Linked DNA regions of Homo sapiens. The protein of the gene in region 1 purifies or fractionates together with the protein of each later gene. This does not show direct contact. Each region holds a gene or a part of one and is shown on either strand. Other genes may lie near its edges.

What was found. Proteins that work in one complex are often made in the same cells at the same time.
Region 2: the proteins of ITPR3 (region 1) and MYOF purify together in Homo sapiens (affinity purification with western blotting, with the first as the bait; one study listed by BioGRID). This does not show direct contact.
Region 3: the proteins of ITPR3 (region 1) and HSPA12A purify together in Homo sapiens (affinity purification with mass spectrometry; one large-scale study listed by BioGRID and IntAct). This does not show direct contact.

What each region holds. Positions count from the first base shown.
Region 1 is NC_000006.12:33,680,322-33,683,993, forward strand, and holds part of ITPR3 (inositol 1,4,5-trisphosphate-gated calcium channel ITPR3), read left to right. Parts: intron 1-7; coding exon 8-133; intron 134-233; coding exon 234-359; intron 360-2,202; coding exon 2,203-2,323; intron 2,324-2,885; coding exon 2,886-3,076; intron 3,077-3,672.
Region 2 is NC_000010.11:93,308,632-93,311,506, forward strand, and holds part of MYOF (myoferlin), read right to left. Parts: intron 2,013-2,875; coding exon 1,903-2,012; intron 1,537-1,902; coding exon 1,389-1,536; intron 1-1,388. UniProt on the Homo sapiens protein: Calcium/phospholipid-binding protein that plays a role in the plasmalemma repair mechanism of endothelial cells that permits rapid resealing of membranes disrupted by mechanical stress. Involved in endocytic recycling.
Region 3 is NC_000010.11:116,697,567-116,701,238, forward strand, and holds part of HSPA12A (heat shock 70 kDa protein 12A), read right to left. Parts: intron 3,564-3,672; coding exon 3,377-3,563; intron 1,174-3,376; coding exon 1,069-1,173; intron 1-1,068. UniProt on the Homo sapiens protein: Adapter protein for SORL1, but not SORT1. Delays SORL1 internalization and affects SORL1 subcellular localization.

The DNA.
Region 1 (3,672 bases):
TGCCCAGGTGAAAATGGCCTATGTGAACTTCGTGAACCACTGCTACGTGGACACGGAGGTGGAGATGAAGGAGATCTACACCAGCAACCACATCTGGACGCTCTTTGAGAACTTCACCCTGGACATGGCCCGGGTCTGTCCCTGTGAGGGGTGTGGGTGAAGCCCCCCAGGAGGTGTGGGAGTGGAGGGGCCCCATGTGAGGAGCCCCCAGCCATCCCTCTCTCCTGCCTCAGGTCTGCAGCAAGCGTGAGAAGCGCGTGGCTGACCCCACCTTGGAGAAGTACGTGCTGAGCGTTGTGCTGGACACCATCAACGCCTTCTTCAGCTCCCCATTCTCTGAGAACAGCACTTCCCTGCAGGTGAGCTTCTCCTCTCCCACCACCCCAGGGCCGACTTGCCTAGCTTTTGTGAAGGGAAGGGGGGAAATAAGAATACATATTTATATTTGCTTATAGTACAGAAAGAAGTAACAAAAGGATACATAAGTGTATTGGTTATCTTTTTTTTTTTTTTTTTTGAGATGGAGTTTCACTCTGTCGCCCAGGCTGGAGTGCAGTGGCGCGATCTCTGCTTACTGCAAGCTCTGCCTCCTGGGTTCACGCCATTCTCCTGCCTCAGCCTCCCGAGTAGCTGGGACTACAGGTGCCCGCCACCACGCCCAGCTAATTTTTGCATTTTTAGTAGAGACAGGGTTTCACCGTGTTAGCCAGGATGGTCTCAATCTCCTGACCTCATGATCCGCCCACCTCGGCTTCCCAAAGTGCTGGGATTACAGGTGTGAACCACCGCGCCCGGCCTAAGTATATTAGTTATCTATACCGTGTTAACAAATTATCCCCAAACCTAGCAGTTAAAACAACAAGCATTCGCTATCTCAGTTTCTGTGGGCCAGAATGACGGTGGGAATGGTACCATCCAGCAGGAACTCCTAACTCCAGTGGGTGGGCGGATCCCGGAGTGGCAGCACTTATTCACCAAAGATAAGGCAGACGTGCCATCCATGGGATGGTACAGCCAAAGCAGGGATCACGACAGTCTCCCTGGCAGGATCCTTCGTGCTGGCTAGTTGATCATAGTGATCTTAGAACTGAAATAGGCAGGCAGCCTTCTGAAGGCCTAAGCAGAAGGGCTCCAGGCCAGTGTACAGAAGCCTGATTTGAATCTCGAAAGATTCATGGCTCCTTGGTCAATCCCCAGATTCCCAGACTCGAGCCAGTGCTCAGCCCAGAGCCCCCCTGAATGAAAGCGAGCCAGGTTCCCTTAAGGAAGGGCCCTGCTACATGACCGAAATCAAAGAAACACTGGAAGGATACAAAAGAAACCCACAAAAGGGGCTACCTAGGGGCATAGGAGCTGGGGTGGGGTGGGATCGTGCTTCTAAGTCTGGGGGGAAAAATGCTGAGTCCTGCCTTCTCAGGAAGGGTGGTGTATTTTGACACACATTGTTTGGGCCCTGGGATCGCATTGGGACGATGGAACTCTGGTAATTGATATCAGCTTTCCCCATCCTTGATCAGCTCCAGGGCAATGAGGGTGATGGGGGAGAGACTTCTCAAAGTGTTATGTTTTTTTTTTTTGAGACGGAGTCTCACTTGGTGCCCCAGGCTAGAGTGCAGTAGCACAACCTTGGCTCACTTGCAACCCCTGCCTCCCAGGTTCAAGCAATTCTCCAGCCTCAGCCTCCTGAGTAGCTGGGATTATAGGCACCCGCCACCACGCCCGGCTAATTTTTGTATTTTTAGTAGAGACAGGGTTTCACCATGTTGGCCAGGCTGGTCTCGAACTCCTGACCGCAAGTCATCCACCCACCTTGGCCTCCCAAAGTGCTGACATTACACGTGTGAGCCACTGCGCCCAGCCTCAAAGTGTTATCTTTTAAATAACCTTTTGGTTTTTCAACCATGTAAATCCATCACCTTTTTATGACATTAATTTTTTTAAACATTTTTTAAAAGGGTCAGCAACATGGCTATGAGCCCACGGCCTTGGTGAGTTACAGGGCTGCCGTGTACAGTTGGGCAGGTCGTGCACTGCTGAAGGGAATACAAGTACCTTTTTCCAACTGGCACAGAGGCACATGGTGGCTAGTGAAGGCTCCGTCTCTCCACCCATGCCCATTCTGATTGGGCCCTGGTTCCTGGACCTGGGGTTGCCCAGGGTGGGGGCCTGGGCTGCAGCAGCGGGCTCTGTGACTTCTTGCAGACACACCAGACGATTGTGGTGCAGCTGCTGCAGTCTACCACACGCCTCCTCGAGTGTCCGTGGCTACAGCAGCAGCACAAGGGCTCCGTGGAGGCCTGCATCCGGACCCTCGCCATGGTGGGTGAGTGTGCCGGGGCACTGGCCAGCCCCAAACCACTCCTCCTGCCGCTCACAGTGGGGACGCCTGCCCTCCTAATAAACACTTTATCCCTAAGCTCGCCCATCTCCTGCTCCCAGGTGGTTGTCAGTAAGTTCTTCTTGGCGTCTGCCTCATCCTGGCAATTGAGAGAAGCTGTTTTCTCCTCTGGGTCAGTTCCCCAGAGAAGGATGCTCGCCGACATTCTCCAGCTAGTTTTTTATGGGTATTTGCAGATGGGCTCAGGCAGGAGCAGGCCTGTGGATTGTTAGGGACAGTTGGGGAAGAAGAGAGGACAGGTGAGAGAGAGGAAGGGGAAGTCAGGGTAGAGCCGGGGGGAATCAAAGAGGCAGAAACTCCTTTTACCCAACAAGGGGAAGAAAGCCTCTCAGTCCCTCAAGCATAGGCCGGGGTGGGGGGGGTCTCTGTCTCCCAGACCCTTGGTCTAGTTCACTCTGTCTCCTGGTGTGGCAGCCCTGAGCCTGGCCTCTGGCTGGCTGAACTGCCCCCGCACCAGCACTCCAGCACTCCCTCCCTTCCCACCCAGCCAAGGGCCGGGCCATCTTGCTGCCCATGGACCTGGATGCCCACATCAGCTCGATGCTCAGCAGTGGAGCCAGCTGTGCAGCTGCCGCCCAGCGGAACGCCTCCAGCTACAAGGCAACCACGCGGGCCTTCCCCCGCGTCACCCCCACCGCCAACCAGTGGGACTACAAGAACATCATTGAGAAGCTGCAGGTGGGTGTGGGGCTGCCTGGCATCTGCCTCGGGAGCTGCTTGGTTGAGTCAGCAGCTCCCCTACTTTGGAGGGGCAAGTTCTCGGGGAGTGTTTCTTCCTGTCCTGCCCACACTTCCAGGAAGGGGCTGGTTGGCTTCTCTACACTCTGGGGCTGCTAAGGGCCGACCCAGCAGCAAGGGACTGGGGAACCTCCTTCCAGAGGAAGCCTGGAGAACCCAGAGGCCTGCTAGTGGGGTTGGAGCTCATGAGGGGGTCGGGACCACCCCTCACTCCTGCAGCGCCCTCCTGTCTATGCAGCACATTTCTGTGCGCTGTCTCGTTGGCCTGTAGAGGGGGTGTGGTGGATTATTTTCCCCACGTGGCAGGAGACTGAGGCTCAGAGAGGCTAAGGGGTTTGCCCAAGGTCACACAGAGCTGGGAGAGAAGCCAGGCTTGGCAGCTCCCAGCCAGGGCTCTGAGCAGACAGACATCACGCTGTGTTCAGGGTGTCTCTGTGGGTGTGGGCCCCTCAGACAGAGGCAGGGCAATCTGTGGGGCTGTTTGGCGTTTGGGTCGGAGGAATGGCAGTCACACCCGGGTCATTTCTTGGGCCTGG
Region 2 (2,875 bases), on another chromosome or scaffold:
GTACATATACTCATAGATGACAAACTAGAAGTACTATACTGGGGAAAAATGAAGACACAAAACCCCTGCTGCTTGTATGGCTACGATACTATTTTTTTGAGACAGAGTCTCACTTCTTCATCCAGGTTGGAGTGCAGTGGTGTGGTCTCAGCTCACTGCAACCTCCGCCTCCCAGGTTCAAGCAATTATCCTATCTTAGCATCCCTAGTAGCTGGGATTACAGGCATGTGCCACCACACCCAACTAATTTTTGTATTTTTAGTAGAGACGGGGTTTCGCTATGTTGGCCAGGCTAGTCTTGAACTCCTGACCTCAAGTGATTCACCCGCCTCGGCCTCCCAAAGTGCCAGGATTACAGGCATGAGCCACCTCGCCCAGCTGATATTATTATTAATGTGTTTTTGGAGTAAGAGCTTTTGAATGTCTCCTGTGACATTCAGTGCCACTGGCCCAACTTCTGAGCATGGCTTCCTCTGCCTGGACTATCCCTTCTCCACTTGGCAAACTTGAATGTCCCCTCCTTGGAGGAACTGTCTTAGCAGGGGGTGCCCACGGTTGTTTGTTTCTGTCTCCATAACAGCTCACCTCCCTTAGTCATGTGTCCTTGTTCCCGTGGCTGCCTGTTCCCAGAATATGAACTGCTCTTGGGCACAAATCATGCCAATAATTTAATCATCACTATAACTTAATTCCTAGCCTGTCGTAGATGCGCAATACATCCTCTGGATGGAGGAAGGGAGGTACTACTTCTAGGCAAGCTGCCAAATCTCCCACTTGGACTCCCGTTTATGACTGGGGTGATTAGGGGAACATTTAAGGGGGAGGTTATACGTGACATGAGCCTTAAAAAATGAGTGAGGTTTTGATAGATAAATGTGGACAGAGAAACAAAATTGGCAAAGGCATCCAGATAGGTAAGGGCAATAATATTTGGGGAGGTTGGGATCAATGATCTAGTTTGGGTGGAACACAAGGTATATGTAGACCCACAATGAACCCAGATTTGGGGATTCTTGAAGCTAGGACAAGGAATTAGGATGCAGGATGGTTTGGAACAAGAAAGTCTGAAGGCAGGAAGATCAGCTGGAAACGCTGGCCATAGTCCAGACACACACTGACCGAGACCTGAGTGATTTCTCCTAGAATTCCTGAAACCAAAGTTATTTTCAGATCATAAAGAAAAGTTCTGCCCGTAATTTGTGAAACCCTGAGAATGTGATTCTAATTACAAGACACATTACTTTAAATTTCCCCAAAGCAGAAGGGTTACAACCCCATGCTGCTGAGCGGGTCATTCTTCTGCACAGTGGTCAGGGCAGATGCCAAGGGAGAGGACCAACTGCAACTCACAAGAAAGCCAAGACAAGGGGCCAAGGAAGGGCTCCTACCGGCAAAGAGTAGAGGAGCACGGCCACGAAGAGCAGCAGGATAAGCAGGAACAGCAAGCCGATGATGACCCACTTAAAGCGGCGCCACACGATGAACTTCATGGTCTTGCATGGGTTGGTGAACCAGAGGAAGGAGGTTTCTGGTCGACTGCATTGCAAAGAAACAGTATCACCTACCCAACTCAGGAGGGATGCATATTTTATTCCAGAGCATAACACAGTTTCAGGAATAAAGAATCACATTAATAAGGTCAAGAAAAAATACTGTTCCCCTTCGTTGACTGAGAAAGGCTCTTTAACCTACGACAGCTTCCTAAGATGCTGAACTTTGGTTTCCTGGAAAGGAGAATTCTTAAAATGAAGCCAGATCACCAACCTCTCCACCCCCACCCACCACTATTAAATACCAGATTAGGAGGACCACAAAAGCTAATCCATCCCATTAAGCCAATGGGAAGGGGGGCTCTCAGCCTGCAGGTGTTTGGGGAGTGGGAGAACAAAGAAGGCCTCTCACTTTGGTAAGTCCAGCTTGGGGTTCATGTTGGGTTCGTCCCGCCCCTTCCCGGCTGGCCTCTCGTCGGCCTCCTTCTCGTTGAGGATTTCCAATGTCATCTCCACTTTCCCCTTCAGTAAAGCAGAGCAGGTTAAACATATGACATCATGTTTCACAAATATTTTTACTTCAACCCAAGGAGTATTCCCCGAGCAATGATTTTTATTCTTGTAAAACAATCCTTAGATTGCCTTCAGTTTTCCTCAAGAGATTTCATCCCATTTCCTCTTCCATGTGTTTCTGAACTGACTCTGTGTGGGAAACTTTGAGGACAAATTGCTTCCCCCACTCCCTACTTTTCATTTTCTGTATCCCCCTCACTCTAACATTCTCACATTGGTCTCCTTGTCTCCCCACACACCTTCCTATGTAACTTCACTTGGACCCAGACTAACCTGAATACCACTAATAACAATATCTAACATTTATTGAGCATTATTGTAGGCTCCCAGTAAGAGAACAGAGCCATATCTCTTCATGCCTATCAATCATTGTCACCTACTGTGCACAGTGGCTGGCATTCAGTAGGTACTCCATGTACACTAGCTCAATAAATGAATGAATGAGTGAGTGAATGAATGTTTTCTCCCTGCTCACGGGTTCCTGAGTGATGTTCCCAGCACCGTTTAAATGTTCTACATGGGTTATCTCATGTAATGCTCATGGCAACCCTACAAAGGTACTATTATTGTCCTCATGTGCAAATGAGAACAGTGAGGCCAAAGTGAAAGTGGTCTAGAAACTTGCCCACTTTTGGCTGGGCGCAGTGGCTTATGCCTGTAATCCCAGTGCTTTGGGAGGCTGAGGCGGGAGGATCACCTGAGGTCAGGAGTTCAAGACCAGCCTGGCCAACATGGCGAAACCCCATCTCTACTAAAAATACAAAAAAAAAAAAAAAAATTAGCCAGCATGGTGGCGTGCGCCTGTAGTCCCA
Region 3 (3,672 bases), on another chromosome or scaffold:
TGAGGTACAGTTACCCACCCCACTCTCCAGTTAGGAAAGTGGATCTTGGAAAGATTAAGTACCTTGACCAAAATGGCACAGCTGCTAAGTATGTTTCCTGCCTCTCTTTTTGTTTTACTCAGATATAATTTCCATACCATAAAATTCCCAGTTATAAAGTGTGTAGTTCAGTGGGTTTTCGTATATTCACAAGGTTGTGCGCCCAACCCCATTACCTAATTTCATCACTCCTCAAAGAAACTCATATCCTTCAGCAGTCGCTCCTATTCCCACTCCCTGCAGCCCTGCGCAGAAAAAGTCTCTGCTTTCTGTTTCTGTGAAGGTGCCTGTTCTGGACATTTCATAGAACTGGAATCACATGCTATGTGGCTATCTGTATCTGGCTTCTTTCACTTCACATGGCGTTTTCAAGGTTTCTCCATGTGGTAGGATGTATCAGTAGTTCATCCTACTGATGAATAACATTCATTGTAAGATAGATCACATTTTGTTTCTGGCTGAATAACATTCATTGTAAGATAGATCACATTTTGTTTCTCCATTCATCAGTGGATGGGCATGTGGATTTTTTCCGATTTTCGTCGTTGTGAATAATGTTGCTATGCACATTCATGTATACGTGTGTTTGTGTGGACAGCATGTGGACTGTTTCTACTTTTCACAGTTATGAATAATGTTGCTATGCACATTCATGTATACGTGTGTGTGGACATCTTCTTTCATTTCTCTTAGGGATTTCATTTCTCTTAGGGATTTCATTTCTTCTTTCATTTCTCTTAGGGATTTCTTTCATTTCTCCACCCAGGAGTGGAGCTGCTGGGTCCTACGGTAACTCTGTGCTTTACTTTTTTAGGAATTGCCAAACTGTTTTCCAAAGAGGCCGCACCATTTTACTTTCCCACCAGCAGCGTGTGAGGGTTCATCCTGTTGTGTTGACTCCAAAGCCCACACTCTCCCTCCAGGCTGTGCCTCCTACCCTGGCCAGCAGGTGCAGCAGCCCGAGACACGGAGCTGGCACGGGTGCCACCGCCTAGCACACAGCTGGCTGGCCTCAACTATCAGTCCTACCTTCAGCGCCTGCTCCTTAAAGTACTGCAGGGCATAAGCAAAGATTTCAAGGGCTTTGACTTTCTTGCCATTTGCTGCCGTCAGGTCTGTATCCATGGTGAGGTCCTGGTAGGAGGAAGAGGAACAATAGTAAGAAGATGACACAGGAGAAACATGTCTCCTGGCTTTGGGGACTGCTCCAAGGGGACCTAGAGGATCCTGGTGAGCCATGTCTGTGTTCCCCCATGCTTAAAGAGGCAGACTAGGATGGCGCATCCCCCAAAATGGGGGCTGGCAGCAGTGTCCCCTTACTGTGTAGGAGGCTCTGGCTGTCCCCTCCAGGCCCCACCTTCACTGCTCCCTCCTTCTCTCCCTCTAGCTCCTGGATCCTCTGGGAGCAAAGGTTTCAGGGGCAACAGTAGAAGTCAGGAAGAGAGAATAGGCAGCAGGTGCCACTCCCCATGCAATTTCCGTACAATTTCCACATTCGAACACACATGGTCACGCTCAGGATCCCCCCTGATGGAGGCCTAATCGTACCAACCCACTGCCATCCACGATGCTAAACAGACGAAGCTTTCATTCCCCATTACGCTGCCAACCAAGTCACCAAAATAGAAGAGCTCCTATTTTAAGGCTTGCCCTATCTAATCCGCCAGGAGCCCAGCATCACTGCTTTCCTCTCTCCACCAAAAGTGAAAGCAGCTGCTGAGTGTGGTCCCAGAGAGAGGATGCTCTGCAGAGCCTAGATGCTGGTGGACGGAGATCATTAAAAAATGATGAGAAAAGTCCCTGTGGGGTAGGGATGGGCAGGGAGTGAGAGCAAAAATCAGGAGGAAGCCCCCAGGTCTCCTGAACCAACAAACTCATTACTGCCAGGGGGAAAAAAATCACTGGGGCCTCCAGATTGTCCCAGGCTGGGTAATTATGCTTTGCCTTGGGAGTGAAAACGGGCATTGAGTTACTAAGCTAGCCATGTGGAGCCCGTCTGTGGCATCCTGACCTATCTGCACTTGCTCACTCCTCCCAGCCAGCTGCCTTCTGCTCCTGGTGCCCAACAAAGATACCCCAGCTTTAGGGCAGCAGCTCCCAGGCTCAGAAAGGTGGTCAAGTGCCAGGAAACCATGGCTCTGAATTGAAAAAAATCCCTGTGCTTCCTTCCACCTGCCATCCTGATACTCAGCATTGAATCCCATTAGGCAAAATAGGAACAGTTCATTTCTAGCAGAACTTGGTCTGCACCATAGAAGGACAACCACGCCGATGGGCACAGAGCCTTGAAAGGCAGGGTGCTGGCTGCTGAGTTTCCCACTTATGTTTGCTTTGTCATCTGCAAGTGCTCAGCAGACAAATGAAAGCAATTAGAATAGGAGCTTGCACTTGACTAGAACTTAATCTGCACCAGGCATGGCTCTAAGAGCTTTACGTATTTTGATTCCTTTAATCCCTACAAAATCCCCATGAGGAAGGCACTGCTATTGTCTCCATTTGACAGAGAAGATAAAACAAGGCAGGGAGGGGTTACATAACTTGGATTACATTTCTCAAAGGTACCAGTGACCAGATTGAAACCCAGGCCATCTGGCCCCAGAGTCCGTGTTCTTAAACATCATCATCATCCTGCCTTTCTAAGCACTGACAGTTAAGGAAACTTTATGGAATAAAATGCTTAACTCAAAAAAGTTCTGTCCTATGCCCTATCCTTTTCTACGAAGCTTCGGGGTGGCAGGGGGTGCCTGTTTGATGTAGGTGTCTTATGGAACACTGGCTTGCTGGGAGCTGAGGACACCACTCAGGGAGTTGGACCTCCAATTATTGGGCACTTGATGTCCTGAGCTCCCCCTCCCCACATAAAGAGCTGGATGTACCAGTTGTTACTGGTTGTTACATCCAAACTGGTTAGTTAAGAGCTACTGCCCTGAGCTCGCCATGTGTCCCTAGCCCCCAAGTGGATCCTTCATGATACACTGATCTCTCAATAATCCAGAAACTAAAGGGAGAACTCCTGGCACAGCAGGAGGGCCCCAGCACCCCACTTCCCTGGTATAACCAGGGTCTACTCTGATAGGTCCATTTCCAAGACAAACGAGTTGTTAAATATTCAGAATATCTCCCTGCCCACATGCACATTGGAAAGCATCGCATATTCCACAAAAGCACTGTGTGCTCCAGGTTGTGTCTAAAATCAAGGTAAATGGACACTGATTTCTGCTTGGAAGAGACCAGAGGGCCCCCTGGGTTGGGAGGACATCCCTTCCCCACCCCAAGGCTGGAGGAAGCTTGGCACTCCATTGCGGGGGACCTGGGCCCAGGGGAGAGGCTTGCTCACCCCAGTGGTGTGCAGCTTCATCTTGAACTTCTCCAGGTACAGCCACTGCTTGGCCTCATTGGGATCCAGGTCATGGTAAAAGTCCCTGGCGGCATACCCGAAGCTGTGGAACTTCCTCTCGGGAGTCAGCAAGATGGTGGTTGGAGTCTTCTGATTGGACACACCAGGGTCACCTCCCTCCCATCGCCTGCCACCAAGGGAAGCAGAAGTTATGGGGCCTTCTTTCAAAATCCCAATTCAGGCAGCACAGATTTGAACACCTACTGTATGCATGAGTGTCAGTAATGTGGGTGCCC